Homo sapiens: one gene and its partners. The protein of the gene in region 5 interacts with the protein of the main gene of each other region in a pairwise test. Each region holds a gene or a part of one and is shown on either strand. Other genes may lie near its edges. The genes, in order: VSIR, ITGAM, TMEM45B, NEMP1 and TMEM229B.

What was found.
Region 1: the proteins of TMEM229B (region 5) and VSIR interact in binary tests that used the Homo sapiens proteins (3 or more experiments, as listed by UniProt).
Region 2: the proteins of TMEM229B (region 5) and ITGAM interact in binary tests that used the Homo sapiens proteins (3 or more experiments, as listed by UniProt).
Region 3: the proteins of TMEM229B (region 5) and TMEM45B interact in binary tests that used the Homo sapiens proteins (3 or more experiments, as listed by UniProt).
Region 4: the proteins of TMEM229B (region 5) and NEMP1 interact in binary tests that used the Homo sapiens proteins (3 or more experiments, as listed by UniProt).

What each region holds. Positions count from the first base shown.
Region 1 is NC_000010.11:71,760,021-71,763,520, reverse strand, and holds part of VSIR (V-type immunoglobulin domain-containing suppressor of T-cell activation precursor), read left to right. Parts: intron 1-1,494; coding exon 1,495-1,923; intron 1,924-2,596; coding exon 2,597-2,653; intron 2,654-3,500.
Region 2 is NC_000016.10:31,271,891-31,278,077, reverse strand, and holds part of ITGAM (integrin alpha-M isoform 2 precursor), read right to left. Parts: coding exon 6,086-6,187; intron 4,714-6,085; coding exon 4,560-4,713; intron 2,530-4,559; coding exon 2,379-2,529; intron 1,408-2,378; coding exon 1,334-1,407; intron 1,159-1,333; coding exon 1,029-1,158; intron 112-1,028; coding exon 1-111.
Region 3 is NC_000011.10:129,821,220-129,827,406, reverse strand, and holds part of TMEM45B (transmembrane protein 45B), read right to left. Parts: intron 384-6,187; exon of another isoform or gene 293-383; intron 1-292.
Region 4 is NC_000012.12:57,056,839-57,062,849, reverse strand, and holds part of NEMP1 (nuclear envelope integral membrane protein 1 isoform a precursor), read left to right. Parts: intron 1-1,904; coding exon 1,905-2,078; intron 2,079-2,790; coding exon 2,791-2,971; 3' UTR 2,972-6,011. UniProt on the Homo sapiens protein: Together with EMD, contributes to nuclear envelope stiffness in germ cells. Required for female fertility. Essential for normal erythropoiesis. Required for efficient nuclear envelope opening and enucleation during the late stages of erythroblast maturation.
Region 5 is NC_000014.9:67,473,804-67,479,990, forward strand, and holds part of TMEM229B (transmembrane protein 229B), read right to left. Parts: intron 139-6,187; 5' UTR 135-138; coding exon of another isoform or gene 121-134; coding exon 1-120.

The DNA of each region.
Region 1 (3,500 bases), on a different chromosome or scaffold from region 5:
GGGTCCCAGCCTGCCGCCGAGGGTCCTGGGCTCTAAGGGCAGGGAAGGGGCATCTGAAGGAGGATGTGGCATTATATTGGTTCTGGGCAATGCCCCTGGCTGGGGCAATGAAAAGGATGTATCAGTTTGGATTCTGTACATAGTTCTAACCCTCCTTCCCTCTCTGCTAGACCCACAACAGCCTGACATGCCATTTAAAATAAAAATACCACTGGCCGGGCGTAGTGGGTCACACTTGTAATCCCAAGACTTTGAGAGGCCAAGGCAGGAGAATTGCTTGAAGCCAGGAGTTCAAGGTCAGCCTGGGCAACAGAGGGAGACTCCGTCTCAAAAACAAATAAATAAATAAAAATAACACCAACGCATAATAATTATAGCTATCCCTCAGATGTCTGCAGAGGGCATTAGAGCTCACATCTTGTGTTCTCATCTTTCCCTCATCTAGTCCTTTTGCAACCCTGCATTGTAGCCAATAGTTTTCTCACTGCACAGAGGAGGAAACTGAGGCTCATACAGTTAGATAGAAACGCGGCCTCTATCCAATATTCTGTTTTCAAAAGCTCATGGTTTTGAGGGTCAACCCAATTAAATGCTGGAGGATTGGGATAAGGCAAAGTGGACCAGGGAATTGCTTCATTTGCTTGGTGAAAAAAACCAAACAGAACTAGACAGTTTTCTAAGTTTGGCTGGAAGGACGTGCATGGATGAGATGACCTTTCATATACTCTCTGTCCCGGTCCCTCAGACACTGGGTTTTCCCATTTTCACACTATCTTGCCTAGGACACCCTTTCTACTGGCTGAAATCCTATCTATGCACCAAGTCCAAAGACTCTCCCTCCTTCAGGAAGTCCCTGACTGTCCCCAGAAGGCTGTTTCCTCCCTCCTCCAAGTGCCCTGAGGGCTGGCATTGGATTGCCTTTGCCATGGGGTTCTGCTGTCGGGAATGCAGGCCTCGTCTGCTCAAGGGGAGGCCATGCATTCAGCATGCAGGTGAGATGCAGCACCTGGCCCAGGCCTTGCACACGCAGGTGCTCTCTTAGTGCTCCCTGGCAAGGATGGGAAGGCATGTTCAGTCCTAGGAGTAGGAAGGGGCAGAGGTGTTGATGGCCCCTACAGAGCGGCCAAGGACAAGGAGCTGCTGTTCGAAACAGCCTTCCTGCTCCCCAACCTGCCTCCCACCCAACAGGTTTTGCATATACTCTACTGGGAAGAGGGACACACCCGACTGCATCACTGCCCTCCAAGTCTCTCCCTGCCCTGTCCAGCATCCAGGAGCACCCCTAGTTGGGGAAGCTTCTGTGACTCCCCCTACAACAGCCTAGGATGGAGTGGGGTTTGTGAACAAATGCAGAAGGCAGTCTTAGGGAGGTCAGCTGACATGCCCCTGGCCTGTGGCTGGGAAGTAGCAGAGGCTAAGGTTCTTCCCCGCTCTGGGGTTGCCAGGAGTAGCACTGGATCAGTCAGGTGACAGGGCTCTCCTCTCTCTGAGCAGGTCCGGTGGCAGCCTTCAAGGTCGCCACGCCGTATTCCCTGTATGTCTGTCCCGAGGGGCAGAACGTCACCCTCACCTGCAGGCTCTTGGGCCCTGTGGACAAAGGGCACGATGTGACCTTCTACAAGACGTGGTACCGCAGCTCGAGGGGCGAGGTGCAGACCTGCTCAGAGCGCCGGCCCATCCGCAACCTCACGTTCCAGGACCTTCACCTGCACCATGGAGGCCACCAGGCTGCCAACACCAGCCACGACCTGGCTCAGCGCCACGGGCTGGAGTCGGCCTCCGACCACCATGGCAACTTCTCCATCACCATGCGCAACCTGACCCTGCTGGATAGCGGCCTCTACTGCTGCCTGGTGGTGGAGATCAGGCACCACCACTCGGAGCACAGGGTCCATGGTGCCATGGAGCTGCAGGTGCAGACAGGTGAGGGCATCCTGCACGTGACAGCCTGGCGTGTGTGGAGGGCTGCCTGTCTGATGGTGTGACCATTCATGACACTGTGCTGGGCAGAGTGTGAGGCTGCATGGGTAACACTGGCACTCCAGGGAGTGTGTGGGTGAGATGGGGTGGTCAAGGGTGTGTGGAGTGTGGGTTTGTAGTTAGCTGGAGTGATGGAGAGGGAGGGTGTACCTGGCTCCATTTGTGACAGTGAGACTTTTTAATGTGTGAGGCTGTAGGTACCTGGGCTGGGAGTGTGACTGCTCATGATGACATCATGGCTGCTGTGGGTATAGGCATCAGTGGGACTGATTGGTGCCCTGGGGCATGACTCAGTGGATGGCTGAATGGCTGTTGGAGAATATATGCGTGTGTGTGTCTGTCTGTTCAGGTGAGAGTGCAAGGGCCCATGGTTCGGATAGAGGTGTGGGCACCAGCGGGTATTCACATGCCCCTGGGAGTGGCATGAAAATGGGCAGGGTGAGAACATGCCAGGGTGTGTGTGGGTGCACACGTGTGCAGGCTGCCACTGGGCCAACACTGCCGAGTAGGCACTAGCGTGAGAACCTGGGGCAGGAGGGGGACACTGGCCTGGACAAGCCTCCCTGGCCTCCTGGGCCTGACACCCACCTAATGGCCCTTCTGTTTGTTCCCACAGGCAAAGATGCACCATCCAACTGTGTGGTGTACCCATCCTCCTCCCAGGATAGTGAAAGTAAGGGACCAACCTCTTGCCCCTTTTGGGTTCTCTGTTTTCTTCTGTCCTCATCCTGCACCCAGACCCTGTTTGGAACTCTGGCCTCATCACCCCAAGCCCTCAGAACCCCCCGGTCCTCCTCCTTTTCTGCTGCTGCACATCCCTTCTGCTTCCTCCTTGGTGCAATCCCCAGAAGCCCACTCTCCTTCCATCTGCTCTGGAGTCTCTGCTCCTCTTGACTCTCTGGAGTGGCTGTGCCTTGGCAGTGACCTTTGGCCAGGGCAAGTGCCTCATGACAGGTACTGGGTGCCCCAGGCAGCTAAGTGCCGCCCTGCCCACCAGCCCCCTATGGCTTGGGAAGGCTGGGGGTCCTCTTGGCCTAGAATTAAACTACTTCAGATTTCTGTGTTCTGTGTTTCTATGTTCTTCAGATGTTCTCTGTTGCAGGGGAGGGAGGAGGAAGAGGTTCAGGAAGGGGAACAGAACTACCTTTCCTGAGTTCCCACTGTGCTGGGCACTGGACTAAGTCTTTTTAAGTATTATTATCTCAGGGATATATATATATATATATGTGTGTGTATATACATATATATACACATATATACATACATATATATGTATATACATATATATACATACATATATATGTATATACATATATATACACATATATACACACATATATATGTATATACATATATATACACACATATATATGTATATACATATATATACACACATATATATGTATATACATATATATACACACATATATGTATGTATGTGTGTGTGTATATGTGTGTGTATATATATGTGTGTGTGTATATATATGTGTGTGTGTATATATGTGTGTGTGTGTATATAT
Region 2 (6,187 bases), on a different chromosome or scaffold from region 5:
ACATGCCAGTGTTCTGCCTGAACATCGCTACCAGGCCGATGTGCTGATATCGAGGTGCCCCCAGAACCAGGCTTTGCACCCGGTTCCGTAAGATGATGGCGGCAGCATAACCTGAAGGTGGGGGTCTGAGAGGTGAAGTGCATTCCCTGCCCCCTCCTCCACCATGCAGACCCACCCCTTGAGTAGGGGCACTGGGGCAGCCCCACGCTTGCTGTGTTGGGGTAACTGATCCCTACGCTATATTTCTCTTTATGAACATAATTACAATTCAATTTAGAAGTTTCTGGCCGGGTGCGGTGGCTCACACCTATAATCCCAGCACTTTGGGAGTCCGAGACAGGCGGATCACCTGAGGTCAGGAGTTCCAGACGAGCCTGGCCAACATGGTGAAACCCGGTCTCTACTGAAAATACAAAAAAAGACCAGGCACGGTGGCTCACGTCTGTAATTCCAGCACTTTGGGAGGCCGAGGCAGGTGGATCACCTGAGGTTGGGAGTTCGCGACCAGCCTGACCGACATGGAGAAATCCCATCTCTACTAAAAATACAAAATTAGCTGGGCATGGTGGCACATGCCTGTAATTCCAGCTACTCAGGAGGCTAAGGCAGGAGAATCGCTTGAACCTGGGAGGCGGAGGTTGTGGTGAGCCAAGATCACGCCATTGCACTCCAGCCTGGGCAACAAGAGCGAAACCCCATTTCGAAAAAAAAAAAAAAATTAGCCAGGGGTGGTGGTGCATTCTTGTAATACCAGCTACTCAGGAGACTGAGGTAGGAGAATCGCTTGAGCGCAGGAGGCAGAGGTTGTAGTGAGCCGAGTGCCATTGCACTACAGCCCGGGCGACAAGAAAGAAACTCCACCTCAAAAAAAAAAATTGAAGTTTCTGTCTTTAAAGCTATCCCAAGAGACTAATAGCTAGTATCCCATACATATGTATCCCATTCATTCAAGACCCAGACATCTATGCTAGTTGACTTATGCCAAATCCTCACCCCTTCTTAGAGTAACCCTTGCCCTCCCCACTTACCCAAGTAAGCATCATTCATGTCTGAATCCACTCTGGTCATGTTGATGAAGGTGCTTTTCTCCTTTGATGTATATAGAAAGACTCCACCAGCCCAGTCATAGCTCCCCACAGTGCTCAGCAAGGGGCCATTCTGGGAAAGGTGTAGAACAGGGTTGATGAGGAAGGAAGAAGGGACAACCGCTGCCCCTCACAGAGCTACTTCCCAAGTATCTATCACAGAGAAGAGTCCCCAAACCCCCACATCTCTCCTATCTCTTCTTGCTACCCCCTGCCCCACCCCCGCAATTTAATGAAGGGCCACTTACAGAGGTGATGGCAGCGCTGAAGCCTTCCTGAGACATCTCATGCTCAAAGGAGCTGCTACTTCCTGTCTGAGTACCTGTAAAGAGGAGAAGTTTCTATATTAAAGAAAGCAGAAGGCCGGGCATGGTGGCTCACGCCTGTAATCCCAACATTTTGAGAGCCTGAGATGGGCAGATCACTTGAGGTCAGGAGTTAGAGACCAGTCTGGTGAACATGGTGAAACCCCGTCTCTACTAAAAATACAAAAATTAGCTGGGCGTGGTGGTATGCGCCTGTAATCCCAGCTACTCAGGAGGCTGAGGCAGGAGAATCACTTGAACCTGGGAGGCAGAGGTTGCAGTGAGCCAAGATCGCACCACTGCACTCCAGCCTGGGCAATAGAGCAAGACTCAGTCTCAAAAAAAAATAGAAAGAAAAGAAAAGAAAGCAGAAGAACCTAGAACAGGTACTGAAAACCCAAGTGCTCTGGTGGCCACAGACAAAGGAGACTCCGACAGGATCTGTGTCAAGCTGGACAGCATACGTCCCTCTTAGAAGGATGGCAGCCATTCACCTCCAGCAACATCCTGCCAAGTGGGAATGCGGTCTTCAAGGTGTCTAATCTTCCAGCTTTTCAAGATAAGCCATAAACCCAGACTGTTTATGAAATCCCCCAATTTCTAAATTCCTTTTATTCAACAAACATTTATTGAGCACCTTCTGAGTACCAGGCACTATTCTAGGCAATTGGGATACAACAGAGAACCGAACAGACGACAGCTGGCAACACATCCAAATTTTTGTTAAAATACTGGGTGGGATTTGACTCCCCCATACTCCAATTTACCAGCCTATAGCCAAGATTTGCAAAATTACAGATAAAAGTATGGATTCTTTGACTTCAAAGGAATTGACCAAGTGAGGCTGGGACTGGGAGCTGTAGGAAGTGGAGAGAGTTGATGCTGGGGGATACCAAGGGTTAGGAAGGTCTGGATTCTAGAGGGGACTATGTTCTGGGGTGGGGGGCTGCCTCTGGAGCTGCTCTGGGAACACAGATGCCTGACTCACCCTCGATCGCAAAGATCTTCTCCCGAAGCTGGTTCTGAATGGTCTTCAGAGCCTCAAAGTTATTCACCTGGAACACGTGATCACGAGGCGGCTTGGATGCGATGGTATTAAGCTCTTGGCGGGATTTCTCACTGCGGAAGGCATCTCCCACCTGTTACCAAGGAACAGAGGCTAAATCATGGTGTGAGGCTAGCAATATCATCTGGCAAAGACAATTCTGCAGGAAACTAGTCTGAACCATTATTTATCAAGTGAGGAAATGCATCAGAAGGTCCCTGGGACAGGGTTGCCAGGTATAGTTGGGCAGGTTGTACACTGCACAAGGCACTGTGCCAAGGAAGCAAGTTGGGGCAGAAACCCGGCTGCTGATCCATCTGCTGTGCCACGTCTCCTGGTATGGAGCTGACCTCCCCCTAGAGGAAGGGGAGCCTTTTTCTTTATATGAAGGTATGTCCTACGTGCCAAGGCATGTATCCATGGTGATATCGCTTTCTGTGTCATGCAGGTGCTGTAGTAGTTTGATTACACTGATGATCCTGACTCCTTGCCTCTTCCTGTATCCAAGCCCTTTCCCCCAGCACTCTGCTGTGCCCTCCTGCTCTTGGTGGAGTCATCTGCCCCCTTCATTGCCTCTGGGCTCAGACATGAGTCTTGCTTTAGCCCATTGTATACAGAGCACCCTTGACATAACTGACTCCATCTTAGAAAAAGGCTCCATTCTATATTTCACAGGGCACTTTGCCAACAAGGATAAGGTCGTTTTAAACAAATTTTTTAAATAGGCCAGGTGCAGTGGCTCATGCCTATAATCCCACACTTTGGAAGGCCAAGGCGGGCAGATCACTTGAGATCAGGAGTTCAAGACCAACCTGGCCAACATGGTGAAACCCCATCTCTACTAACAATACAAAACAAAAATTAGCCAGGCATGGTGGTGCATGCCTGTAGTCCCAGCTACTCAGGAGGCTGAGGCACAAGAACTGCTTGAACCCAGGAGGTGGAGGTTGCAGTGAGCCAAGATCATGCCACTGCACTCCAGCCTGAGCGATAGAGCAAGACTCAGTCTCAAAATAAATAAATAAATAAATATAAATAAATAAAATAAACAAATAAAGACTACATCCAACCAGATAAGGATGCAAACAAGCACATTCTTCTCTGTCTGTTCTCACCAGACAGCTCTGTGACTAGAAGAGATCAGGCCTTCAGCAGCTCAAAGCAGCTGTTGGAACTCACACCTCGCAGTCGCTCATGATGAGAGCCTGGCATTTGCTGCCGAGGGCTCTGCCGTATCAAAGACTCTGCCTTGCAAGACTAACAGGACCAGGACCCTTGGGCCCAGACCAGGAGTCCTTTTCATTCATCCTTTCTCCTCTTTCTTTTTCTTCTGATGTTAAATGTTACTTTGTTTGCTGTGGAATGTTTAACCTATAACTTATATATTGATTAAGTATACTATTATATATGGTTTGCAATATTGACTGACTTGTGGGTGGCTTGAGCCAGAGTGTCTGAGGGAACAGGATGCACTAAGAAGAACTGCCTCCTTGGGAATTCCATGCAGCTTGTGGCGTTTGTGATTGAAATAGCATCAGCGAAAGATGTTGTGGAAAAACACAAACCTGCATGGACCTGGTTATCGCTAACCTTGCACTGCTCGTGACACCCATGGATGTTATCAAACATGATGCAGAGGCGTAAAAAAGCACTTGCAACATCTCCACTGTTCTCTTGCTCCCCTGCCTTCACCATGAGGACATGCCCAGGCTAGCCCTGGAGAATGAGAGCCAGGTTGCCAAAGGGCCAAGTCACCCCAGTGGTTCCACCCAAGGCCATCTGGTCCAGCAGATGACATAGCTGGCAACCCTCAGAAACAGAGAGAGCCTGGCCAAGATCAGCAGAGCAGCCTGCCAACCTGTAGCTAATGACAGTGAGGAAGGCCATTGAGACCAGAACTCTTGGCAGGCTGACCCACAGGCTTACTTATTATTTTAAGCTGCTGAATTTTGGGATAGTTTATTACACAGCATTGATGTGGCAACAGATAGCTGATACGGTGTATATGAGCTAGCATTAGCTCTCATGTCACTTTGATTTTAATAATATTTGCAAATTGAAGGGAGGATGGATCCACATAGAAACCCTCCACAGAAGCATCAACCTGAGAGCTGCATTCCCTACCCCAATGACGTAGCGAATGACTCCCTCTCTGTCTGCCTCAGGGATGACATCCTCATATCCCAAGGGATCGCCAAACTTTTCTCCATCCGTGATGACAACTAGGATCTTAAAGGCATTCTTTCGGGCTCCGTTGGTGATGTTAAACAGCTCTCGTCTGTGCAGGAAACAGGAGGGACAAAGTCAAATGCAAGTAGATGACACACTAGTTTTTTTTTTTTTTTAAGAAATAGACACTCACTCTGTTATCCAGGCTGGAGTGCAGAGACACAATCATAGCTCACTGCAGACTTGAACTCCTGGGCTCAAGTGATTCTCCTGCCTCAGCCTCCTGAGTACCTGGGACTACAGGCATGTACCACCACACTTGGTTTATTTTTTTATCTTTTTAGAGATAGAGTCTCACTATGTTGTCAATTGGTCTCAAACTCCTGGCCTCAAGTGATCCTCCCACCTCGGCCTCCTAAAGTGCTGACATTACTGGTATGAGACCCTGCACCTAGCCAGAGATGCTATTAACGTCAGAAAGGAAATGTCAGCAGAGTCCCAGACACAGATACAGCTAGGCGAGGTCTCGGAGGGGCTCCGTCTCCCCTGAGACTTAGCACTGAGATGCAACTGCCCCGAGACCTGGAAAAGCAGCAGGGAAGGGAAAGGAAGCCTTCACGGTTTTTGTTTTTATACTTTCGCATAATTTGGGTTTTTTAACTGAGTATTATTACTTTTGAATTTTAAAAATATATATATTTATGGCTGACACTTGTAATCCCAGCACTATGGGAAGCCAAGTCAGGTGAATCACCTGAGGTCAGGAGTTCAAGACCAGCCTGGTCAACATGGTGAAACCCTGTCTCTACTAAAAATACAAAAATTAGCTGATGGTGGTGATGGACGCATGTAATCCCAGCTACTCAGGAGGCTGAGGCAGGAGAATTGCTTGAACCCAGGAGGTGGAGGTTGCAGTGAGCCGAGATCAGGCCACTGCATTCCAGCCTGGGTGACAGAGTGAGACTCTGTCTCAAAAAAAAAAAAAAAAAAAAAAAAAAAAAAAAAAAAAATATATATATATATATATATATATATATATATATATATATAGTTAATTGGCCTTCAGGAAACCTCTCCCAGAGCACTGCACCAGCTCCCCAGCCCCTCTAGGACTCTCCAGTGCTTCTTGTACTTCTGTCCCAACCCCATCCTTGCCTCTACACCCACCTCAAAATCAGAGTGAACTTCCCAAAATGAGACATGGCGATATCTCACCACAGGCTGTAAAGCTGCCTTTGGCTCCCTGGCCTGAGCTGATCTTTGTAGCTTCCCTCCAGACACCTTTCCCTCACTTCCCCACTCCACTCCCACCTTTCACTCACAACTTGTCCTTTGATGAACACACCACGCACAGCCTCCCCACCTCTGCCGGTGGGGAAGCATCCTCTACCACCCCTGTCTGAACGGCTCCCTTCATCCATCAAAGCCCAGCTAAAAGTGTCTCCTCCTCCCTCCATCCTAAGGGAAAAGGGGAAGCTTACACCACTTTGCGGATGCCCGTGGCCGTGTGTGTCCGCCCAAGCAGCTGCGTTATTGGCTTCACCAGTGATCTTGGGTTAGGGTTGTTCTGGAACTCTTTGAAG
Region 3 (6,187 bases), on a different chromosome or scaffold from region 5:
GTTCTTGGAAAAAGTGCTCACACCTACAGACTCCCTTCAGCATCTGCTAACAGTGCGTATACTCAGCACTGACAGTATACACCGCATAGCCTAGATGTGTAGTAGGCTATGCCATCTGGGTTTGTGTAAGTACACTCTAGGATGTCCACACAACAAAATCGCCTAACGACACATTTCTCAGAACATGTCCCTGTCGTTAAGCACCACATGACAATACTTGTGAAAGACTGATTGTCCTGGGACGTACTGGTAGCAGTCCTAGCACATAGCACACAAAGTGGGTAACTCTCACCTGAGAAACTGGGCAGGCCTCACAGAGCGGGAGGCATTTGATTTGGGCCTTTCTTCAAACTGTCATGAAAATTAGGCAGTTTTGCTGGATCCTGAATTCGAGAATGAAAAATAAATTGGAGGCCGGGCACGGTGGCTCACGCCTGTAATCCCAACACTTTGGGAGGTCGAGGCGAGCAGATCACGAGGTCAGGAAATCGAGACCACGGTGAAACCCCATCTCTACTAAAAATACAAAAAATTAGCCGGGCATGGTGGTGGGTGCCTGTAGTCCCAGCTACTCGGGAGGCTGAGGCAGGAGAATGGCGTGAACCCAGGAGGTGGAGCTTGCAGTGAGCCGAGATCGCGCCACTGCATTCCAGCCTGGGTGACAGATCGAGACTCCGTCTCAAAAAAAAAAAAAAGAAAAACAAATTGGACTAAATTCTATTTTCTCACTATCTAACAAGAACACTGGCCACTGAGTCAGAATACTTGGGTCCTAGCCTGAATGCTGCTAGGAATTCACTCTGTGACCTTGAGCAAGACACATAGCCTCTCAGGGTCCTTTTTTTTTTTTTTTTTTTTGTGACAGAGTCTTGCTGTGTCCCCCAGGCTGGAGTGCAGTGGCGCCATCTCGGCTCACTGCAAGCTCTGCCTCCCGGGTTCACACCATTCTCCTGCCTCAGCCTCCCGATTAGCTGGGACTACAGGCACCCGCCACCACGCCCAGCTAATTTTTTGTATTTTTAGTAGGCACACGGTTTCACTGTGTTAGCCAGGATGGTCTCGATCTCCTGACCTCGTGATCCGCCCGCCTCGGCCTCCCAAAGTGCTGGGATTACAGGCGTGAGCCACCGCGCCCGGCCTCTTTATTTGTTAAATAGGGAGTTTGGAAGAGGGACTCTCCATGGCTCTTCTGAATTCTGAAATTCCTTTATGTCTTTGCTCCTCATTAATACATCACAAAAACGAAATGCAGAAGTTGGAGCAAGTTTTGGTCATGGAGAAGGGAGGATGAAACTAAGGCTATGGCTATTACCTACAAAGAAGCAGTTACCAGTTGCCACCTCAGCATACATTAGAGTGAAAGGACATCTCTGGACTTCAAAGGTGGGTTTAGTTTTCAAACAACCAAAAAAAAAAACCAAAAAAAACCTTACATATATTTCTGTAATTAACACTATCCTTAACTCAGCCATGGGAAAGAATACATTTAGTTCAGAATTCTCTTTCTGGGCGCTCAAGGAAAATAATAATGGAAAGATCTCTCCAAAGTCATGGAGTCAAATTTCCAAGATGCCAGGCCACTAAGGAACATTTCTTCAAGGCTTGGGCTCTCTGCCTTCTCCACCTCTTGGAAAAAGTGCTCAAGCTTACAGACAGACTCCTTCCTTCCTTCCCTCAGCATCCACTACCAGTGGGCTTGTTCAGCACTGACATTAGTGAGCAGGCAGAGGCTGGGCCTTCCACTTTACTCAACAGTCCTCCTTGCATAAGCCCTTACTTCCGTTTCCTCTTCCCCTTGCAAGAACTCTCACGCACACCCATGGATTAATCACCACTTGCACAATGGTGACTCCCACAACTTCATCTCCAGCTCTGGCCTTGTCTCTAAGTCTCAGACTCATAGATCCAACAACCTGCTGAACAGACAGACATGCACATAAACGTATAGATGTTTCTTAGACACCTCAAGTCAGTATTTCCAAGACTGAACTCACCATCTTCTTTCCCCACCAAATCGGCTTCTCTTCTCATATCCCAAACTTAGTTAATGGCTTAATGTCCAGTCACCCAGAAAGCCAGAATCTTGGGAGTCATTCTGGACTCTCTTCTCCCCTCACCATTGCCCCCAAAGACATCAAAATTCTGCTAAATTCGCTTCCCCAAGTATCCTGGTATTTTCTCTTTCCCTTCTGTGCCTGCAGCAATGATCTCATTTGGTCTCTCATTGTCTTTTTCCTAAACACTGCGAGGCCTCTAGTCCTGCTGTCCATGAATTCTTCTTCCACCCCGCAGCCAGTCATCCACCTTCCGTGTACATCTGACTACACTACTGGAGGATGGAAAATGTTCCATTGGCTAACCAGCAGCCTGTGGAGGGGTCCACGTCCCCTTGCATTGGGTATACCTGAATGTGGCTCCTCTCCAGTGTCACCTCCCAATTCTCCCCACCATGAACCTGACAGTGTCCCCTTTGCTCATGTTGTCCCCTCTAAATTGCACGTCCTTTTCATTCCTCTTACTTGGTTTCCATATTTAGGCCTTATTTCCTCCAGGAAGCCTCTGTGAATCTCCAGGCTGGGCTAAGCGCCTCACCTCTGTGTTTTCAAAGGACCTCATACATACCATGATTTTTTATCACTTACCATGTTATATTAAAATTATATAGTGACATATGTCTTGCCCATTAGTCTACAGAATCTTCAAGAGTGGAGACCTTATCATCTCCATCAAAAACTAGCACAAGCTTGATACATAATAATAGTTCTTAAACTGAACTGAACTGATGCAGCTTAGCCTTCATCTTGAATCAAGAGAACACCATCTCCTAAATCTAGCCATTGGTAAAATTGTTGGTACCGTTACTATTTTCATACAATTCTTAGAGCTAGGTAAGTCCCTTGATTTCTACTACTGTGTCTCACAGACTGGCATATGTGTGAATCCTTTCCCCCCAGATGATATCTGAAATCACAAGACGAACATAATCCTGGAGTATCAATTTCACCTAAAGATTCTGGAAAAATGATTTTCATTTTAAAACAGATACAGACATATTGTGGGGTAGCATATATTTTTTAGTATTAAGAGAGACTGCACTTATGCCAGGCTGTTCTCAGACAAGTCTCCAGGTCCCTGGGAGTTTAGACTCTATTGTTAGTGCTGACGATTGAGAAACAGTAATCTATAGATCACTGTTTTGCACTGTAGTTTAGTTACTGTTCTAGAGCCTCCCATAGAGAAATAAACAGCCCCAGTGAGACCGAAGCAGGAGCTATCTCAGTAATGGCCAGAAGAGAGGGACTTTCATTGTGGGTCTGAGTTAGGTTTGAAAAGATGTCTGTGTGATTGACAGGTAGGTATTCTGAAATGAGCACAACAATGAGCTTTGTATAATGTATAAAATATGCCAGATTGTAGATCAATGTAGGGGAGGAGGCAGAAAAATGACCATTAGAACAGATCAAAGAGAAGCTCTGGATCAAAGTGCAGGCCGATCAAAGACACTGGAAGGAAGGGAAGGGCACTACAGTCAAGGGATGGAACATGAGGAAAAAAATAATCCAAACTGAACTGTGGCTCAGGAGGGACTCGATGCAGGGTGGTTGGTGATAACCTAAGAAATAATTAGATATTTAGTAGGGTGATATGGGGAGTTTTCAATCCAGGAAATTCTACTTAGAGTCCTAGTAGTTAGAGATCTTTCAAGTTTGTTTTCTTATAGCTATTCCATACCATCAGATTTGAGAATGAGGTAGCATCATCCAAGAGGTGGTGACATAAAAAGATTTAACAGAAACAGAGGAAATAGCAAGGGGACAGGTAGGAAGGGCTAGTTTAAAACAGATAATAGGGTCAATTTAAGTCAACTAACATTTATCAAGTACCTGTTATGCATAAGGCACTGTTCTGGGAGATGGAGTTGCAGGGGTGACAAGCCTGGGCCTGTGCTGTCAGGGAGTTTGCAGTCTTTGTTGAAGTCGCCTAAGAAGGAAAAGCTAACAGCAAAAAATCAGGGTCTAATGGGCAGGCTTTCCAAGTGAGAGGCCTTAAGAAGCTAAAGCAGGAACGATTCCTATCAAACGTAGTATCTGTTCCCTTCACGTGATCTAAAACTTTCCCAGGAAAAAAATAAAAAACATGAATCTGCTCCAAGTTTTGATGATCACTGTGGGGCTGCAGAAGGGAAAAATTGCATGGATTTGGAGGGTGACCTTCAAGGACAGAAATTCTGTCCCAAATTCTAGAGATATTAGAAAAATATTTTCCCAGGCTGGGTGTGGTGGCTCATGCCTGTAATCCCAGCACTTTGGGAGGCCGAGGTGGGTGGATCACAAGGTCAGGGGTTCGAGACCAGCCTGACCAACATGGTGAAACCCTGTCTCTACTAAAAATACAAAAATTAGCTGGGCATGGTGGTGGGCGCCTGTAATCCCAGCTACTCAGGAGGCTGAGGTAGGAGAATGGCTTGAACTCGGGAGGCGGAGCTTGCAGTGAGCTGAGATCGCGCCACTGCACTCCAGCCTGGGCCACAGAGTGAGACTCTGTCTCAAAAAAAAAAAAAAAAAGAAAAATGTTTTCCCAATATAATCCATATTTTGCAAATGGTTATCAAAAAGTAAATTAGTTGTACATGTAGTCAAAGAGTTTTCATTCCCTAGTATCTCAGAGCTTTTTCAATAGAAAATAAAACATGGAGAACATCAGCAACTTCAAAGTGCAGGCGGAGTCAAGGACACATTTCCCATTTTGAATCCTAGACCTCCACCTGTCCACCTTACAACAAGAACCTCCGCTATTAAGCAGATGACATAATAAATACATCTAAGTTATTATGTGACTTTTCTCAAACAGGAATAAATGGCTAGAAATGAGATCTTTCTACAGAGAAACCCATTATATGTACTAGAAAGCACTAGAGACAGATGATGATAAGCCATCAAAAAGGCCTTCTCTGCTTAACCACCCTGCAATGAAGCCAGCCAACCTACAAGCCATGCTCACAGATGACGCACACCATCCCCAAACATGTATAAAGCTTCCAACGTGAAAGGCAGGCCAAAAGCAACATTAAACGTCACTTTAAAAATAGACACAGACATTGTAGGTAGCTGAAGAAAACTTCTAAAATGTAGAAAAAGTACTGAGTTAATATGCTTGGAGAAAGAAGAGAAGATGCTGCGTTCATGAAATGAGAACAGGATACTGTAAAAACCATTCAGAAGACCACACCTCTCGCCAATAAAAGCTCCTGAGAATTAAAAATATAATGGTAGAATGTAAACATTTAATAGCATTGTTGGAAGATTTATTAGAACTAAAAAAACATGGGATATTTTTTAAAATAAAAAAGATAAAATTACAAGACAGATCCAAGAGATCCCATTTTCAGATTCAGTCTAAGTAATTTAAGTTTCAGAAAGAAAGAACGAGGAAATTATATAACAGAAGAAAACCACTCAGAACTGAAGAATGTACTTTTTGGATTGAAAAGGCCTAGAAAATACTTAGGACAGTGACGGATACCTCCCTGTATTCCCCCCACCCCGCCAAAAAACCCACCCCAACATTAAATAACAACATCATGAAATATCAGAATATGAACAATAAAGAAAACCCTACAAATGCCCAGAGATTAGAACAAAATACAAGGGATCAGGAATTAGAATGGCATCAGCCTCTCAACAGCACCGTAAGAAAGTAGAATAAAATAGAGCAATGTTTTCAAAATTCGTACGGGAAATGATTTCTGATTAATATCCCATACCCAGCCAAACCAGCAAGCAAGTGTGAAGGAAGAAAAGTGACATCTCAAATGGGCACAAGCTCAAAAAGCAACCGCATCTTATGGGGCCTGAATCTTATACACTTTTGGGAGCCTTCTTTAAGAAAAAGGCGTAAAATTACAAAAACTGTACATAATTGGGTATGAAAGTACATATGTATTCCACAAGAGATGGCCTAGACAGAAAAAAAAAGTGTGTGTGTATTTAGAATGAGAAAATAAATCACAACAGACAGGGACCGTGGAGGTTCTAGACTCTGTCTTTTCAGATGTGCTTGGAAAATTTACCCCAAATGCTTCTTGATGGCGGCCTGGCGTTTCCTCCCCACTCAACAGCTCCATGCAATTAGCAGCACTCAGAGGGCCCCCATGAGTTTCCTTGGCTCCAGGAAATGACTTCTTGGT
Region 4 (6,011 bases), on a different chromosome or scaffold from region 5:
TTTTTTGAGATGGAGTCTCGCTCTGTCGCCCAGGCTGGAGTGCAGTGGCGTGATCTCGGCTCACTGCAACCTCCACCTCCCGGGTTCAAACGATTCTTCTGCCTCAGCCTCCTGAGTAGCTGGGATTACAGGCATGCGCCACCACATTCAGCTAATTTTTATATTTTTAGTAGGGTTCCCCATGTTGACCAGGCTGGTCTTGAACTCCTGACCTCAAATGTCAGGAGTTCATAAAGTGCTGAGGAGCTCCCAAAGTGCTTGGATTACAAAGTGCTGGGATTACAGACATGAGCCACTGCGCCCCGCCACAAATTGTATCGCTTTTATACCGTATGCTCATTGAGGTCTCCTGGGTTCAGATTTTTTTTTTGAGACAGAGTCTCTCTCTGTCACCCAGGCTGGAGCACAATGGCGTGATCTCGGCTCACTGCAGCCTCCACCTCCCGGGTTCAAGTGATTCTTCTGCCTCAGCCTCCCGAATAGTTGGGACTACGGGTGGGCGCCACTATGCCTGGCTAATTTTTGTATTTTTAATAGAGATGTGGTTTCACCATGTTGGCCAGGGTGGTCTCAAACTCCTGACCTCAGGTGATTTGCCCACCTCAGCCCCACAAAGTGCTAGGATTATAGGCGTGAGCCACCTCACCCAGCCCATTTCAGACTATTTCTCAGTGGCTTTCAGATTGCTCTGGAGGTCTTAGTCTTATTTTAAGATGTAATTCATAGCATGTTTTGTCACCTTGCATAATAAATATGGAATGTTACTAGGTCCTGAAGTTGTCTATTATAGATAGTCAAGGTGATGCTTTCAGTTTGGGAAACCAAGTTACTGGACCACAATCTTTTTTTTTTGAGATGGAGTCTTGCTCTGTCACCAGGCTGGAGTGCAGTGGTGCTATCTCAGCTCACCGCAACCTCTGCCTCCTGGGTTTAAGCGATTCTCCTGCCTCAGCCTCCTGAGTAGCTGGGGTTACAGGTACATGCCACCATGCCCAGCTAATTTTTGCATTTTTATAGTAGAGATGGCGTTTCACTATGTTGGCCAGGATAGTCTCAATCTTGACCTTGTGATCTGCCCACCTTGGCCTCCCAAAGTGCTGGGATTACAGGTGTGAGCCACCTTGCCCGGCGTTTTTTTTTGTTTTTTTTTTTTTTTGAGATGGAGTTTTGCTCTTGTTGCCCAGGCTGGAGTGCAATGGCATGATCTCGGCTCACTGCAACCTCCGCCTCCCTGGTTCAAGCGATTGTCCTGCCTCAGCCTCCCGAATAGCTGGGATTACAGGTATGCACCACCATGCCTGGCTAATTTTGTATTTTTAGTAGAGATGGGGTTCCTCTGTGTTGGTCAGGTTGATCTCCAACTCCTGACCTCAGGTGATCTGCCTGCCTTGGCCTCCCAAAGTGCTGGGATTATAGGCGTGAGCCACTGTGCCTGGCTAGAACCACAGTCTTATACCATGATTTTCTGTTATTTTCCCATCTACTAGAAAATAAGTAAGTATTTTATCATTTATTGGAAAATAAAGTGAGTTTGTTCACATTAGTGAATAATATTGACTATAATTTTTTACTTTCTATAGGCATTTTTATATTTTTATTCTAGTCATTTTATATAAAATAAAAAGGTCTAGTAAAATGTCATGTGTTCCTGTTACCACAAGGTGGTGCAAATTATATCACTTTTTTTTTGAGATGGAGTCTCGCTCTGTCGCCTATGAATTGTCACTCATAGTCTAATGTATCAGGAGTTCATTATAACTAAAGATGTCCATGGAATTTTTAGGAGTGATGACTCTTAATGTTCAGGCTGTCTGCTGTATTCTTGGCCCACTGAAGGGAGCTAGAAGTAAGGATGGATATAGATTACTGATTAATGATTCATAATGTTATTTTGGTGAGCACAGAAAGGTGTGTAAGGGAGCAGAAAAGCCTGTTCCCCCTCGTCTCCTGACAGAAGAAGAATATCGGATACAAGGAGAGGTAGAAACCCGAAAGGCTTTAGAGGAGCTCCGAGAATTTTGTAACAGTCCAGACTGCTCTGCTTGGAAGACTGTTTCTCGAATCCAGTCTCCAAAAAGGTAAACTCGGCCAGATATACCAAGCATCTATCAGGGTAATTGTGACCTTGAGTTCTACCAGAGATCATACTTCTAGAGAATCGTGCACTTGTGACCTTTGTTTTCCTGTTAATCTTCAAGTAGTCAAGAGAAGGGTGGATATATAATCACACATTAAGCAGTAACCTGTTTCCTCAGGGAACTATCTACTCTAGCTTTGATTGTAGCATTAAGATGGGAAGACTCCAGTACCATATTAAGTTTCCCTTCTGAAAGTTTTGCATTGCTGTCTGAGTTGGTAGGGTTCCCCCCTACCCACTTTTTAGTTGGGGGCAAATGTACCAATGAGTATGTGAAGCTTCAATTTGGAATCATGATGGCATAAAGTTTACAGGGCCATAAACGTGAATAACTGTAATGCCCCTTAATCTTCTCTTATCAGGATTACAGATGACTAAAGGAACCTTGGCACTTTCATAATTAGAAAGGATAGGCAAGTGCTTATTAAGCAGGATGGAGTTGCAGGGGTATTAGCCTATGATCCCAGCTTTCCTTTTCTCCTTAACTTCATGCTTTAGTCTACTTACCTGCCAGAGTAAGGACAAGGATGTTGGCTAGACTTAATATAATTTGAGTTGCGAGCATATCGAGGGCTTTAATTTGTTCTTATTTTGAAAGAAGACCAGAAAGGACAGAAGGATATTTCTAACGAGTATTATCTTCTCTTTTCCAGATTTGCTGACTTTGTGGAAGGCTCTTCCCACCTCACGCCAAATGAAGTTTCTGTCCATGAGCAGGAGTATGGATTAGGGAGCATTATTGCCCAGGATGAAATCTATGAGGAAGCATCCTCTGAGGAGGAGGACTCATATTCTCGGTGTCCTGCTATCACACAGAACAACTTTCTAACCTAGGTAGTGGTCAGTTATCTTTACGTGGACTGGCTTGGTGCCTTGGTCCATGTTGCATGTGTTGTGCAATTGCTTTCAACCCTTTGAAACAGAGTGAGATAGATAGGGTAGAAATTCTCCTACTGAAATAAGAGGCCTAAAAAGGCCTCCCTTTGGAAATGGGAGGTCTCTATGGGATCCCTGAGGAAGGAGAGTGGATAAAGTAGTGAATGCTGGGTAGTTCACTTCCCATTGGTTAAGCTAACAGCCCACTTTTATGTTTCCAGAGAAATTGGATGGCCACAGCTAGCATGGCATTCTAGCTCCTTCTTGAAAGTTGATTCAATCATGGCATTTCTGTCACTGGCTGGCTCTCCAAAGTAAGAACTGTTGTTAAGTGCAGGAATGCTTTTAGACTATAGGCTGCAACTTCCAGAGAGAAATCCACAAATCTGAGCCTCCTTCACTCCAGCTTTTATTTCAGTGACTTTAGAATAATTATTGATTTAACTGTTTTGGGAGGAAAATAGATTTTTATTGTTTTGTTTTTTAAATGAATGTCTTTTAAAAAACATAACAAACTCATGTTCCAGAACCAGCAAGTGCTCCAGAGTGACACACCCCCTAGGCCCCTACATATTTATTAATATGGATTATCCATTAAAGCCCCAGGAGCTGTTGTTTTAAGCTTTGATTTAGTTCTCATACATATGATAGAAAGTCCTATTTGCCTTTAGGAACATGCCTGTAGGCTCTTCTGCAGGTGAGATGTACTGGGCTTTTTATTATATTCAACTTTCAATTCCATCTTAAAAAACATTTGTATTCTTCTCTTCCCATTCTTCCTTACCCTGCCTTTGCCCTTTCAGGAAGGGTCAGTTCCCTTACCTGTGAACTATGTATGTTCAGAGTAGCATTATTCCTGCTAGCTAGGAGAAGTCATCTTGTTTAGGGGATTTGGATGCTTTTTATACGTTCTCCATTTTCCTGTCATTGGGTCATGTTATCTTTGAGTTGCTATGAAATCAGGAAACTGTCTCCTTTTCCTTTCCCTTCCTTTGTCTACATGCTCTGTCCATTCCTTTCAGCCTTTTCTCACCACCCATACTCCCCCAAATCTGGGTAATTTTTAAGCCTTGAAACTATGTAGTTTCTTGATACACAATTTGTAGTTATGCAGCAGCCACAATTTGCATTGCCAGGAAATAGGCTCCAGGTTATCTTCATGCCTCTGGGTGCTCATTCAGCTGTCAAGTTTCCATGAACTTACACTTATTTATGATTGCGTTTCTGACCTGAGATGTATGCTGCCTGTTATTGCAGTAGCATTAGTTTCAGATTCTTTTGCCATTGCAAAGTACCCCTTATAAACCAGCAATGTCATCTGTGAGGAAGCAAATTCTCAAGTGTCTGTCATTTACTTGGTTCTTTTTCTTTGTGGTCTTCACCCTTATACCCTGGAAAAGTCTGTAATTACCTTAGCCAGGAAGATAGATGGTCATGGCAAGCGCACAGCACCAGACTTACTGGCTCACCAAGATGATGGAAAAAGGCAGATGATTTTTTAAAAAGCCGTAATGACTCCTTTAGACCAGCCATTTAGCGTGGTAATTTTGAAAGGCCTAGCTCCATTGCAGACTTCCAAAGGGTCAGCTCTGAGACTGCCCTCCAGGTGGGCAGTTGATTATTTCCACCAGTGTTTTCCAGAGCCTTAAACTGTCCTAAGTGACAACTACCTCAGTTGGCAGGAAAGAGACATATAGTAGAAAGTGAAAAATGAGCAGTATTTGGGCAGATGCTATGGGTTACAGTTGAAGGGTAAAAGGAACTTTACATTGGGAAACCTTTATACCCTTGTGAATTATGTACATGGTAAAATGTTCTCTCTCTACAAAGAACTATTAAAACTTCTGAAATATACTATTTTTTACCTTATTTATAGAAATTGAGACCTAGCATATTTAAGCATAAGTTTATTTTAAAAAATAATTCAACTCGTGCAAGTGGTCTCAGGATTCTCTGGAGATTTTGGTGCCTCCCCTACTTAGGGAGGTGATAGCTTGCCTATAAGGGTGACTTTTCCTGATCATGTCTTTATTTCAATGAGAAAGCACTGTGAAATTGTGAAAGATTCTCCTCTTTCTCTGTTTAATAAACCCCCATGAAATATAGTTTCCATCTCTAGACCAGTTTTTTTTCCACCGTGTTTAGACTTGAGGTGAATAAAATCAAACTGTTTTTTACTCCCTATCTGGTAGTTGGAGACCTGAGCTGTAGGCAGTGGAGATGGCAATTGGTTCTGCAGCCTGAGAGTTGCTCTCACACAGTGAAGGACGGTGCTGCTCTGGTGTGCTGTGTGTCCTTGCCCTGCCTGCCTGTGGCTCTGCCCAGATGCTTCAGATCCTCTGTGTTCCGGAGATTGCTTGACTTCAACCTTCTTTAGGAGCTGCTCTTGTCTCCCTCTTGGCCACTTAGTTTGCTGGCTCAGTCACTACTTGAAGACCCCATTTAATTTTTCTCTGGCAGTTATAGCTCTTGTGATTTCAGTACAGTCTCATCTCTCAGACCAATCTCATCAAGAAGGATTGAAGGGATAACTATGAGGTAAGCTGGACATTGGAGCCGTGTTTGCTGCCACGTCAGCGTCTTGCTGGGTGAATGTCAAGCCATAAATGGGCTCCAGGGCTCTGGATCTCATCAGCATTGGAAATCTATTGCCTCTCATCAGTCTGACCAAATTATGTAGAGCATTAATGTAGAGACTCCCATTAATGGGAATACAAGAGGCAGCTGGCATAAAACATTTCTTTCACTTTCCTTTCCCACTCAGATTGCTTCAAGAGACCAACAGAACACAGGGATCAAAAACAAGGAAAATTTAGCAACTTCATTACCTTCTAATAAGTAATTCCTGTTAGCCACTGCATCCCACCAAAACTAGTTTATTTTTCCCCTCAAATTCATGATTTTTACGTCTGTTACAAAGGGAATTTTGCTGATAGCTCTTTGGGTCCCACTGTTCCATTTTATGCTAATAGATTCCATTCTAGGGCCCAGCCGTCTC
Region 5 (6,187 bases):
CTTCCAGTTCAAGTTCACCACGAACTCCCAGGCCGCTGTGAACATCACCTCGCAGAAGTAGCCGTGGATGGCATACAGGTACCAGCGGGACAGCGCCGTCAGGGGCTCGGCAGACGCCATGGCGCCGACTGGGGCTGGCTGCGGGGGGCGCAAGAGAGACAGGTGAGGGCCGGGCGCGGTGGCTCACGCCTATAATCCCTGCGCTTTGGGAGGCCGAGGCGGCGGATCACTTGAGGTCAGGAGTTCCAAACCAGCCTGGCCATCATGGTGAAACCCCGTCTCTACTAAAAATACAAAAATTAGCCTGGCGTGGTGGCCCGCTCCTGTAATCCCAGCTACTTGGGAAGCTGAGGCAGAAGAATCGCTTGAACCCGCAAGGCAGAGGTTGGAGTGAGCCAAGATTGCGCCACTGCACTCCAGCCTGGGAGACAGAGTGAGACTCTGTCTCCAAAAAAACAAAACAAAAAAAAAACAGAGCAAAGAACAGAATAACCCACCCACCCCACTGACTTCTCTGCAACTCTACCCAAATGCTACTTAGAGGGAGGTGTCTGTACTCCCTAGAGCTTTTTTGGATTATCTGTGGTCAGTTGAAGAGTCGGCTGGCCTGCTGCACCAATCAGCCCCATTTCTAGACTACTTGCTGATTTCTCAGCAGGCCTATCCACTGGGGACCCCATTTCTTCCTCCACTTCTTCTCAAACAGTTCCATGTCACTCATATTTCTGAGATGTAAGTGACTCATCACATTTGTCCTTGTGTGTGTGCATGCCATTTTTTAACCATGTGTAAGTGTACAATTCAGTGGTCTTAAGTACATTCACATTGTTGTGCAACTGTCACCACCAACCATCTCCAGAACTTTTTCATTGTCCCAAACAGAAACTTTGTATCCATTAAATACAAACTCCCATTCCCCATACCCTCAGCCCCTGGCAACCACTATTCTATTTTCTGTCTCTATGAATTTGACTACTCTGGGTGCCTCATATAAGTGGAATCATACAAACACTGTCCTTTTGTGACTGGCTTAGCATAACTGGCTTAGCTTTCACTTAGCCTAATGTCTTTAAGGTTCATCCATGTTGCAGCACATGTCAGAATTTCCTTCTTTTTTTTTTTTTTTTTTTGTGACGGAGTCTCGCTCTGTCGTCCAGGCTGGAGTGCAGTGGCGCAATCTTGGCTCACTGCAACCTCCGCCTCCTGGGTTCAAGCGATTCTCCTGTCTCAGACTCCTGAGTAGCTGGGACTACAGGCACACACCATCATGCCCGGCTAATTTTTGAATTTTAGTAGAGACGAGGTTTCACCATGTTGCCCAAGCTGGTCACAAGCCCCTGAGCTCAGGTGATCCGCCCGCCTTGGCCTCCCAAAGTGCTAGGATTACAGGCGTGAGCCACTGTGCCCAGCCAGAATTTCCTTCCTTTTAAAGGCGGAATCATATTCCATTGTATATATCACCATATTTTGTTTATCCATTCATCCATTGATGGACACCTGGGTTGCTTCTACCTTTTGGCTACTCAAAATAAGGCTGCTATGAACACGGGTGTACAAAGGTCTGTCTGAGTCCCTGCTCTCAACTCTTTCAAGTACATATGCAGAAGTGGAAATACTGGATCATATGGTAATTCTATGGTTAACTTTCTGAGGAACCACTGTGCTGTTTTCCACAGTGGCCACACCATTTTACATTCCCCATCAGCAATGTACAAGGGTTCCAATTTCTCCACATCCACCCCAAACACTTGTTATTTTCTGTTTTGTTTTTATAATGGCCATCCTAATGGGTGTGAGGTGGTTCTCTCATTGTGGTCACATTTGTCTTTGCTCCATTAAATGGGGTTTTGGTGTTTGGTTTCAGTGCTGAGGGGAAACCAATGGATTGACACAGGAAAGAGTCCTCCCCAGTCCTTCTGGCTCCTTTCCCCTCCCCTCTTTTAAACCCCACCAGTCTTCAACGCCCGGCTCCCATGCTGCTTCTCTCTACTTTCTCCTCACCCTCCACCAGCGACTGTCTGCACCACTTACCTGGCCCATTATCAGGTGCCACCCCAATGGCTTTTTGAGGTATGTGCTCTCATGATCCAACTAGCATGTGAACTCCTTGAGGATAGTGACTGTTGCACAGGCCAGTGCTTTGTGGCCTTGACGCAGGCCCGTCCTGGGCAGGCCCTCTCTAAATGACATGTCCTGTTCATGTGGAGGGAGGTGTGGGACTGCATCAAGAATGGGAAGGTAGGGCTTGAGAACATAAATCCCAGCTCTGCCAGCTGCTAATGGCTTCACATCTCTGTCGATCCCCTCTCCAAGGTGGGAGAAAAGACAGAGGTTAAGGAAATGGCATCTGTAGTATGCACACCTGTCTGGGAATTCCAGCCTCACATTTCAGCTGAAGCAGGCCTGGTCACATTAATACCTACCCAGCCTTGTGCATTGCTCTGTGGTCTTCCAAGCACTTCGTTCGCATTTTGTCATGGTTCTTACATAATTAAAATTCAGGCTGGGCGCAGTGGCTCACACCTGTAATCCCAGAACTGTGAGAGGCTGAGGCGGGTGGATCACCTGAGGTCAGGAGTTTGAGAACAACCTGGCCGACATGGTGAAACCCTGTCTCTACTAAAAATACAAAAATTAGCTGGGTGTGGTGGCATGCACCTGTAGTCTCAGCTACTTGGGAGGCTGAGGCAGAAAAATTGCTTGAACCCAGGAGGCGGAGGTTGCAGTGAGCCAAGATCATGCCACTGCACTCCAGCCTGGGCAACAGAGCAAGACTTCCTCTCCAAAAAATATATTTATAAATAAAATAAAAAAGATTCATGTGAAGGTCAGAAAATTTTACTCCCATTTTTTTGCAGTGAGACAGAGCTCAGAGAGGGGACATTATTTACCCCATATCCCAGGGCCAGTAAATGGAAGAGCTGAGATTAGAACCAATATCTCTTGCTTTCTACTGCAGAACTCATCCCCTGCACATGACTGCCCATCTCTTAGACATACGTACCAAATGTCTCTCCCCTGCTCAAAAATGCTCGATAGTGGCTGGGCACAGTGGCTCACGCCTGTAATCCCAGCACTTTGGGAGGCGGAGATGGGCAGATCACCTGAGGTCAGGAGTTCAAGACCAGCCTGACCAAAATGATGAAACCCTGTCTCTACTAAAAATACAAAAAAACAATGGATGGGTAGGTATTAATGTGACCAGGCCTGCTTCAGCTGAAATGTGGTGGCATGCGCCTATAATCCCAGCTACTTAGGAGGCTGAGACAGGAGAACCGCTTGAACCTGGGAGGTGGAGGTTGCAGTGAGTCGCGATCGCACCATTGCACTCCAGCCTGGACAACAAGAGCGAAACTCCATCTCAAAAAAAAAAAAAAAATGTTCGATATCTCCTTATTTCCTAATGAAACACAACAGCATCCTTGGCCTGCCATTCAAGATTCTTCATGACCTTGCCCCGATTGACATCTTCAGCCTTTTCCTCACAATCCAGCTCTTCCTGTCTTTCATCTCCATGCCTTTGCAGGTCCTATTCATTCTGTTAGGCGTGCCTTTCTCCTCTCACTTCCATGAGTATAAACCAGCTTGCAGGTTACCTTCAGAACAAAATCTCTTTCATTCCCCCAGGTCCCAAGGCTTCTCTTCCTCTTCTGAATTTCTACAGCACTTACTCTGTCTCACTCCCTTTGCTACAGGTTATTTTCAATATTATATTGAGAATTTCTGTCCCCGGCCAGACCTCTTTCCTGTGTGCTACACCTATAGCTCCTGCCCTTCCCTAGACAGCTCCCCCTAATGTCCCACAGGCATCCCAAACTCCTTTCCTAAATCAAACCCATGGGCAGGTGTGGTGGCTTATGCCTGTAATCCTAGCACTTTGGGAGGCAGAGGCAGAAGGATCGCTCGAGCCCAGAACTCTTGAATTCAAGACTAGCCTAGACAATGCAGTGAGACTCTGTCTCTAAAAAATAAATAAATAAAATCAAACCCATTATCTTTTCCCCAAAACCTGTTTCTCTCCTAAGACCCCCACCCCAATTAATGGCACCACCATGCACCCAGTTAGAACCAGCGGTCTCAAAGTCTGTCTGGCTTCCTCTGCCACATCCCCACCCTAACATGAGTTCCTGAGAGTGAGGGCCTTGCCTGCCTGGTTCAGCATAGTATTCCCAGTGCCTGGCACAAAGCCCAGCACATAGTAAGCATTCAAGAGAAGAATAAAGACATTTCTTAGTTAGCAATCGCCATATAACAAATCATCTCAAAAACCCTGGCCTAAAACAACTACCGTCTACTATTACAGCTCACATGTCTGTGGTTGGCAGACGGCTGGGGCAGCGTAGCTCCACTCCACCTGTCTCTCATCCTCCTCCGGGGCCCAGTGGACTTGCCTGGGCATATTCTTCTCATGGCAAGGGCAGAGGCACAAAGCTGAGCAAGGCTAGCTGTACAAGTGTGGTTCAAGACCCTGGCTAAGCCATGCCCACCATCATCCCACTGGCCAAGGGAAAGCCACCAAGTCAGCTACTAACTCCCACCCTTACCACCTCTTAAATATCTTTGGGATCCATCCCCTCCTCTTCATTACTCTTCTCATTGCTGCCACTGCTCTGGTTCACGCCCTCATCATGTCTCACCTGGATGACTCCAAAGGTCTCCCAGCTTTGCCTTCTTCCTTCTAATTCACTCATCACAGGATGAAAGAGTGTGTAGAAAAAACGCAACCTTTCTAAAATGCAAATCCGATGTTTCTCACCACTTGAAGCCCATGAGTGGATCTTCAACATCTACAGAGTAAATAAAGCTCAAACCCCTGGGGACGGCTGGCAAAGCCCTTCACAACTCGTCCCTGCCTCCAATCCTGTCCTCCAGATCTCTACCTTGCTGTTTTTGCTACCTGGGCCCCACCCAGGGCCGGTGAACCCTCCTTTAAGACCCAGCTCCTCCTCTGTGAGGACTTTCCTAAGCACCCTGACTCCAGAGTTGTCTTCCCACTTCTGCACCCTCCCTTCTCTGTGGTAATAGTGAGCACTCTGCTTCACTGGATTCATCTGAACGCCAGCACCAGCAGCCTCCTGAGGAATGCTTGTTTAAGATAGTGGTAAGAGAAAAAAGCAGGATTCAAAACTGAATATTCAACCTAACTCCGATTCTGCAAAGGCATGCATATGTGCACATATACAAAAAAATTAAACAACAATCATCTCTGGATGGTGATATCATATGTGCTTTTTTTCTTTATATTTTTCTGCATACTTTTTTTTCCTAACAAGCATGTATAACTTTTATAAAACTAAAATTTCATCTTAAAAATGCTTATGGAGGCTGGACGTGGTGGCTCACCCTGTAAACCCAGCACTTTGGGAGGCTGAGGTGGGTGGATCATGAGGTCAGGAGTTCAAGACCAGCCTGGCCAACATGGTGAAACCCTGTCTCTACTAAAAGTACAAAAATTAGCTGGGCGTGGTGGCGTGTGCCTGTAATCCCAGCTACTCGGGAGGCTGAGGCAGAAGAATTGCTTGAACCGGGACCCAGGAGGTGGAGGTAGCAGTGAGCGAGATCGTACCACTGCACTCCAGCCTGGGCTACAGAGCAAGACTCTGTCTCAAAAAAAAAAAAAAATGCTTGTGGAAGCTGGGTGCAGTAGCTCATGCCTGTAATCCCAGTACTTTGGGAGGCCGAGGTGGGTAGATCACCTGAGGTCAGGAGTTCGAGACCAGCCTGGCCAACATGGTGAAACCACATCCCTACTAAAAATACAAAAATTAGCCGGGCATGGTGGCATGCACCTGTAATCCCAGCTACTCGGGAGGCTGAGGCAGGAGAATCGCTTGAACCTGGGAGGCGGAGGTTGCCGTGAGCCGAGATAGCGCCACTGCACTCTAGCCTAGGTGACAGAGTGAGACTCCGTCTCAAAAAAGGAAAAAAAAATGCTTGTGGAATGAATATGTATTCACCGTATTCATACCTCGTGTATAGAAGGTGTTCAATGAATTTGCTAAGCAAATGAACCCAAAGAAACCTGAAGTCATGTAAAATTATTGCAGGCTCTTCCCTCCTGTGTCATCCAACAACAAACCATGCCTCACAGGTCTCAATATGGCCAGCTGGTTAAGTTCAGGGACCCCAGATGATCCTAACTGCCTGGGTTGGAATCCTGGCTGATGCTTTCCACCTGTGAGACCTA